2 linked regions of the Homo sapiens genome follow. The protein of the gene in region 1 purifies or fractionates together with the protein of each later gene. This does not show direct contact. Each region holds a gene or a part of one and is shown on either strand. Other genes may lie near its edges. The genes, in order: ZFP36L1 and DECR1.

Region 1 (3,915 bases):
AGAATGCGCTCTCTTCGGCCCGCCCCGTCCTTTCCAAAGAAACGTGCTCATAATGGGGTGACCTAATTACATCGCAATGGAACTCAATCTTAGCCACTCCGCAGCACCGGGTTTCATAACAGACTCGGCGGCCTCGAGTGCTGGGAAGAAACGTGCGAGGGCCGAGGGGGGCGGCGGAGCCCGCGTGGAAATCGGAAAGAAGCGCAGCCCTGCGACTTCCGCCTGGGTCATCACGCCAGCAGTCGGGCCAAGGCGCAGGGGGCGGGTGGGGGACTCGTTAACTTTTTATTTGGGTGGGCGGCATCCAAACCTAACAGTATATATTTTATCATTTTCAAGGGAGTCATGCTCCATTGCGGGCCCTTCGGTTTCGTGGCTCCCATGTCCCCCTCTCCACCTCCCGCCAAAACGGCGCAGCGTGACAAGCCATATGTTCCACTCCGGTGGGGGCGAGAGAGAAGCAACAATAAGTTAAAAGTGCCGCCTCCCTCCACCTCTTTACCTTCATTCTTACCAAAGTAACCTTTTTTCATTGTTCTAGAGTCTTGAGGTGTGTGTGGGGAGGATGGAGGAGGAGGGAGGGTTGTGGCGCCGCCCAGAATTCGGAGCGCGCGTGGAAAGTAGTGAGTTGCTCGGTGGGCTTTTTCTGGGAGGAAGGGGCATTCAGGAAGGATTAGGGTTTTCTTGACTAAAAAGTTTAAAGATTGGATGCGTGAAAAGAAACGGCACGCCTAGGCCTGGTAAAACAAACAATCGTCCCGGGTTGTGGTCTTTTTTTGCGGCGCCCCCCACCCGCCCACACCCGGAGAGCGCCGGCTGCAAAGCGAGCGCGAGTGTCGACGCGTGCGGCGCACTAAATTGTGCCGCGCTCGCCCCCGCCAGACCATGTCCTCCTGGGGAAAAAGTTTCCCTAGTCCCCCCAGCAGCGCGCCCCACCCTACGCCCCGCTGGAAAAAAAACAGCAACATAAAATCCTAGGCTTGAACATTCTGTGCGTCCCAAATTTCTAATGTCCTCGGCCTGCCCGGTTTGCCGAAGGGAGCCGAGTGTCGAAGAGAAGTCGGGAAAAGGTAAGTTGTGCAGACACTTGGGGAAGTTTCAAGGAGACCGCCAGCTCAAGATGGAAACCGCGGCCCGGGCGCTAAGGACGGGCTTCAGCTCCCGCTGGCAAAAAGAGAAAGTCGAGCCCGCCTTCCTGCCCAACAAAAAACAACAACATGACAACAAGAACCCCGGAGGGAGTGGAATGAGTGACGTCACAGCCGCGCTCTGAGGCTGACAAAGGAGGGGGCGCGCCCCTCCCGCTCTGCGCCCGCGCGGCCCCGGAGAGGGGGCGCCTGAAGCGCCGGGTAGGGAAGTCAGCCGACTTGAAACTTTTCCTCTTAAAGAAAAAAAAAAAAAAGTTGTGCGCGGCTCACAGTGGGGTTTTTTTTTTCCGCCTTCTTTTCTCGTCTCCCCTCCCCCTTCTTCCTTTTGAAAGTTTCTTCTCCTCCCCCTGCCCCCCCTCCCCGCCTGACCGCATGGCTGATTCAACTCCAGTGTCAATCAACTTCTTTTTCCTCCTCTTCCTCATTTAAATAAGTTTAAAGCTCCTCCTCCCCCCGGCCCACCAAATCTGAACTTTATAAATTGGGCTTTGCGCGCCCCAGCCCGGAGTCAGAAAGGCGAGGGGCGCCGGGAACTGGCGTGTGGGACTCCAGACAGGAGAGGCTGCGCCTTCCCCGCACCGGGACCTTCGCGACACACCAGATCCTCGCCCCTGGCTCGCGCGAACGCACAGGATGACCACCACCCTCGTGTCTGCCACCATCTTCGACTTGAGCGAAGTTTTATGCAAGGTAAAGGGGGGCGGAGCATTTGCTTTTCAAAAAGTCTTTTTCTTTTGCCTTAAGAAAGAACCCCCAAAAGTTTGGGTCTTGGAAGGCAATGGGGAAAGTGGTGCAGCGAGATGATTCTTTTCTCCTCCGGCATTTCTCCCAAGTTTGAAGGAATTTGGCCCCGTCCTTCCCACCCTTTGAGTTTCAACAGTTGCTGGCGGGGATTACATGTGAATCTGGAGGCCAGGGTTTTGAGGGGCGAAGTTTGCCTGGCAGGGCAGCCCGGGGGCTTCGGGGGGAGGGCTGGGATTGGGACAAGTTTTGGGCGATCCTGTTTTACGTAACGTGCTGCTGGATCCCAGGTTTGCTGGTCTGATCGGGTTCCCAGTCTGCGCCCTAGGTCTGTCCAGCGGCATTACCCACCCGTGGGGTTGGGAGTGGGAGGTCCCTCGGGGAAGTGAGTCTCGGGACAATGTTTTCCTCCACTCTTTGGGGGGAGCTGGGGATATGCGAGGAAGAAAGGCCAAGTTGTGATTCAAAAAGATGTTGCAGAACAAGTTTGCAGTGGGGCTTGAGTCCGCCCTAGCTCCGTTGGGCTTCTTCCCGCGATAGCCGATCGTGCAGCAAACTTTGGGGTGAAAGAGGCATTCAGGTTGACCCGCTTACCTGTGTTGCCGAGGCATTGCGGCTCATCGATTGCGGGCGGGGTTGGGGGGGGAGGTGGCGACAAAATGCTGGCTTGAACTCGAGAGTCCCGCGAGTAAGGATTTAATGGGGGGCTCCTTAAAACATGTTGCTTGTCAGCCAGTGTTGAAAAAGCAAGTTTTAAACTCGGAATGTTCCAGGACTGCGGTTTAAATGTACATAGCAAAAGTCTATGGATGTTGTTAAATTTCTTTCCAACCTCCCCCTCCCAATTTGAAAGGGTGAAGCTGCTGGGCTACTTTTTAATTGCTGAAGTGTTTTGCCTTCTCTTAACACGTCGGGTCATGTTGCTCTGTTTTCCCAGCTTGCTGCTCCTGTTGGTGCAGCTGCCAACGCCCCAGGGCTGCAGGGTTGGGGTGCAGGGACGCCGAGGAGCTGAAGAGTAGCATTTAAAAAGTTTGAATTTTTCAGCTTCCTTCCCTCCCTGCACATTCCCAAACTCCACTTGCCAGCCCGGCTGCCAGCGCTCCCCAACATTTCTTCCTTCTTTTCTCGACTCTCCCGCTCTTTGATCTATTTCTTTCTTTGGCCCCCCTCCCCCCTCACGACTTTTTAAATGAACCTCATTGTTGGGAACCAGCTCTCGACTGGGTTCCTGTAATCCTCTCGGTGGGGTGGTTGCAGTTACAGATTCCCGGTCCCCCCCTGCTGATCCTAAGGGACCAACATTAGAATTTGCACAATGACACCCACATGGGCTGGGAACTAACTCCTAGGTCCCTGACCTGCACCATTTCCAAATCTTGGGTACAATTTGGGCAGGTGACCAGGGTCCTATTGGAACAGAAACCTGCCATTGGTGGCTCTGCCCCCATCCCCACCACCCCCAATCCGCTATTGACTAGGAGGTGGGTAGGGGGGTTGGTGCTTTCCTTTTCCTTTCCATCTGCAGCTTTGCGTTAAAGATTAAACACTGGAGCTCTTATCCAAGCTTGCTCTTGCAGCCAAAAGACTAATTGCAAAGGCATCTTCTCAGTGAAGGGGGCGGGGTGGGCTAGGGCTGAGTGGAAATGGTGAGAGAGATTATTGTAGAAAATATCTCTTCCGGGAACTTAGGGCAAAGAGTTTTATTTTCAGGAATCACATCCCTGTCTCCCCCAACCTCAGACCAGGCCCCCAATCTCCTCCCCACAAGAAAAAGCAAAGGCAGTCTGAAAACCTGTTGCCAAAGGAAGGGAACACTTCTGAAGGAGGAAGTTGAGAGTCTTAGGCCAGGTCTTGAAGGAGGGGGTATCAATTAAGCAGAGACTGATTGGAAGGGGACCTAACGTAGCCTATGATAGACTCCTTTCTGAGGTTTACCTGTTTTTGTCGCGGGCGGTGGCGGGGGCGGGGTGCGGTAATCTAGAGAGGTCTGGGTTGTGTGAGATATTTTGAGTTGAAGAATCTATTT
Region 2 (3,815 bases), on another chromosome or scaffold:
TGACATCAAAAGAGGGGGGAATTTTAAAGTTATCCAGAGTTTCTTACAGCCCATGGTAGAAAGCATGCAATAGATGTTTAGCAACTTTTAGTTTTTGCAGAAAATTCTAGGTAGAAAATGATCAGCATTCTCAGCTGTCCTGCGCTCTTCTCTTCCTAAGTTGATGAATCATTCTGAGATTGAAGTGCCAGGGTAATGATAAGTAAGTCTAGAATACAAGGTCAACTGCACTTTTATCCCTTCCAGTCTGGGAAACCCTCACACTGCATTGTAACATAAAAGCAGTGATAGAACTGTAGGCTTTCATAATTGCTGGAATGATGAAATGATGTTGCCATTTACCTTTAGCCCTAATTTATTCTTCATGCTTCAAAACCATATTTCCTACTGCAGCTTAGATATCTCTACCTGACTATTCCAGAAGCATCCCAAGTGCAGCATTTCTGATGCAGAACTCATTATCCTCAATGCTCCAACTTGGTCTTCTCATGTCAACCCAGTCATTTCAGTCAGAGCATCACTCTGCATGCAGCCACTTAAAACTAGAACTCAGTTACCTTCCACAGCTCTCACCTTACTTGCCAGGTCTGGCTGGTTGGGTTCTGGGTTCAGGCTAATTTACATGTTAAATGTGTGTGGAATATGTTGTCTTCTCTTAATTTCTACTGCCCTCGGTATCTCTCATGTACACTTAATGACTTCTGTCTGATGAGTCTCCATTTCCTTTTTTCTGGCTCACATTTAAATCTTAATTTTTCTAGAACACAAAGGCAGTGCAGATGTAACAGGGATATTGAGGTAAAGATGAGAGAGGTAGAAAAATCTCTCTCAGTTCTTTTCAGTAAACAGGAGACCTGTTTATATGCTGTTAATGAAACAGGCAAAAATGTGATGAAATAGATCAAGAACAAAAGTCCAAGCTCATGTTGTTGGGCAAGAGGCAAGAAGAAATCATGGATCTAGTGGATATCTTAAATATCCTGACTTGATCATTACACATTCTATGCATGGAATAAAATATCACATGTACCCCATAAATAGGTTAAAATGTTATGTATTAATAAAACATTAAGAAAAAGAAGAAATAATTGGACCAGGCGATATTAGGTACAGTGGTGACTCATTACGTCCTCATTTTTTGGGACCTTTGCTCTTGCAAGTAGTTTTATTTGCTAACTTCCCACCAGTTCACATGATAGCATCCTGGGCTAAGCATCACCATCTCTTGCCTGGCTTGTTATACAAGTGTCCTAATAGTTTCCCTGCTTCCAACCTTGCCCTCTACACTCCATGGCAGCCAGAACAATCCCCTTAAAACTTAAGGCAGATCATGTCCATTCTCTCCTTAAAACTTAGAAGATGTTTCCCACTTGCCTCAGAGTAAAAGCCTAAGTCTCCGTAGTGGCTGACTCAGCCTGCATGGTCCAGTCCCCTTTACCTCACTGACCTCTTCTCCTGCCCCTGTCTCCCTCCTTCCTTCTTCTCCAGCCACACTGGCTTCCTGACTGTTACCCCATCCATAAGCATGCCCCCTGCTTAGGGCCTTTGCTCCCAATCCCTTTTGCCTAAAACCCTGTGATTCATTCTTCTCCTTCACGTCTTTGCTCCAATGTCACCTTCTCAATGAGGCCTTTGCTGATGACTCTATTTAAAGTAGCAATGCTCTATCCCTATTCTCTGCCTTATTTTTTCCCCACACTACATATCAACTTTTAATATACTACATATTTAACTTAATTTCTTTATCCCTCATTCCCCCAAGGATAATCTTGCTGAGAATAGAATATTGTGTCTGTTTTTTTTTTTTACTGCCGTACTGCCATGCCTAGAACAGTGCCTGGGGCTTAATATATGCTCAATAAACACTTGCTTAAAATGAATAAATGAATAAACTCTATATCCATCATAATGTCATGTTTATCCCTAATACTTTTTTATGTAAGCAAATTCCCAAAACAAACTCTTTGCAAGAGCAGAGATTCTAATTTTTGGTTTAAAAAAGATTGTCATTATAGTTTTGGTTAACATGATAGGGGATCAATAAGAGATGACTCAAATCAGAGGCAGGCAGGAGTGAAGACCCTAGCTGAAAATTTCAAATTGCCTCTTAGGTCTGTGATTTCATCTCTTTTTATTTTGTTGTATTGGAGAAGCATCTGTTCAGTCTGCATCTAACTGCAGACAGATAACCACTGTAATAAAATGAGATGTACACCCTATGGCATAGAGCACCGACATTTTCAAGGACTCATGTTCACTGATACAAAATGTATCATTCCTCAAAAATGTAATTTCTGTCTTGCTCCTGGCAACTGCATAATTCAGCTTAGCCATTGGAGCTTGGAGTCCAGCTGGGCAGTTTCTTTTATATTTGTTTAGCCTTACCTTCAGGTTGCTGTGGCAACAAGATCTGTGCTCTGCGGAAGCTGAGAATATCAGTGGCCTCTGTTCAGTGCCCTGCTATAAGTTAAGGAGCAGGCAGATGTGCTTAAGCAATCTACACAGTCATGGAGCATGAGTTAACGAGGCCTGTGGCAAGCTTTTGGTGTGGTACTCAGTTATTTTAATGTCTGCAGGGCAACTGTTGGCATTTGGGGTGAGACAGTTCTTCATTCTGCAAGGCTGTCCTTTTCTGCACTGGAACATCCAGTAGAACATCCCACCAAACTATCCCTTGTATTACCAGATACCTCCAGCTAAGGACCACATACACTGTGCTGAAGTGGCAGTGGTGTGGCCATTGGAAAGAATGCACGCATGGCCTTCTAGCAATCGGACAAAATAAATTGGGAAGTAGTTATGGAAGGCTTCCTGTATTCAGGGAGTACATAAGGTGTTTTGGGAATGCAAAGATGTACACTTTTGAAACTCATCCTTTGAAAAATATGGTTGTCCAGTGTTTACCACGCTGATAGTTTAATATGGCAGTTAGGGCCCAGTCTGCAAAACTCTTATGTGAATTCCAGTTGGAGTAAATTTGATCTAAAAAATATTGATTCAACCTGAACCAACAGATACGTAGAAGCTCCAAGAAAATAGATGTGGAAATATTTCATTATCTTTATAAATATAGCTCACACTTTAGTGTTTAATATAGAGTAGTTATGCTTCAAGTAAGGTATATGTCCTTATCATGAAATTGATTCTAGGCCATTTTTTTTCTTGCTCTGTTTTCCTCTACGTACTTCTTGTATTGTGTGCTTGCCTATATGATTCAGTTTTCTGTTAGCTATTGTTAAAGAAAAAAAATTTATGAACATGTTGAACATTCAAGCAATATAAAAGGATATGCAGTGACAGTGTAATAAGGTTATTATTACTATGGTTATTACTATGAATAGGTTCTTGTGGATACTTCTGACAGTTTTTGTGCATATGTCAACATATGTATGAAGATATCCTCATTTTAAAAAACCACATGAAGGGGAGCCTGTTACATGTATTTCTCTACCTTGAGTTTTACACTTAACACATAGTGTCTCACATTGTTGGTATCCAACAAATACTTATTGAATAATTAAAAAATAATACATCTATAGCAATGTTTACAGTCAGCATATACATTCCAGCTCCTTCTTTTGGTAGATAATAGATCCATATAACTGTATTTTGTAATATAGATGTGCTCTAATTCATTGGCTATGTCCCCTAAGGAAACACACATAGATTGTTTTGTAGTCTTTCTATTACAAACAATTCTTTAATGAATCTCTTTGGCTATTTTGAGTCTCTTGCATTTTCAAAACAATTTTAGGATAAGCTTGTCGACGTTCACAAAAAGCTGATTAGGATTTTGATAGGGATTTTGTTGAATC

What was found.
Region 2: the proteins of ZFP36L1 (region 1) and DECR1 purify together in Homo sapiens (affinity purification with mass spectrometry; one large-scale study listed by BioGRID and IntAct). This does not show direct contact.

What each region holds. Positions count from the first base shown.
Region 1 is NC_000014.9:68,790,805-68,794,719, reverse strand, and holds the start of ZFP36L1 (mRNA decay activator protein ZFP36L1), read left to right. Parts: upstream 1-1,781; coding exon 1,782-1,838; intron 1,839-3,915. UniProt on the Homo sapiens protein: Zinc-finger RNA-binding protein that destabilizes several cytoplasmic AU-rich element (ARE)-containing mRNA transcripts by promoting their poly(A) tail removal or deadenylation, and hence provide a mechanism for attenuating protein synthesis.
Region 2 is NC_000008.11:90,007,708-90,011,522, forward strand, and holds part of DECR1 (2,4-dienoyl-CoA reductase [(3E)-enoyl-CoA-producing], mitochondrial isoform 1 precursor), read left to right. Parts: intron 1-3,815. UniProt on the Homo sapiens protein: Auxiliary enzyme of beta-oxidation. It participates in the metabolism of unsaturated fatty enoyl-CoA esters having double bonds in both even- and odd-numbered positions in mitochondria.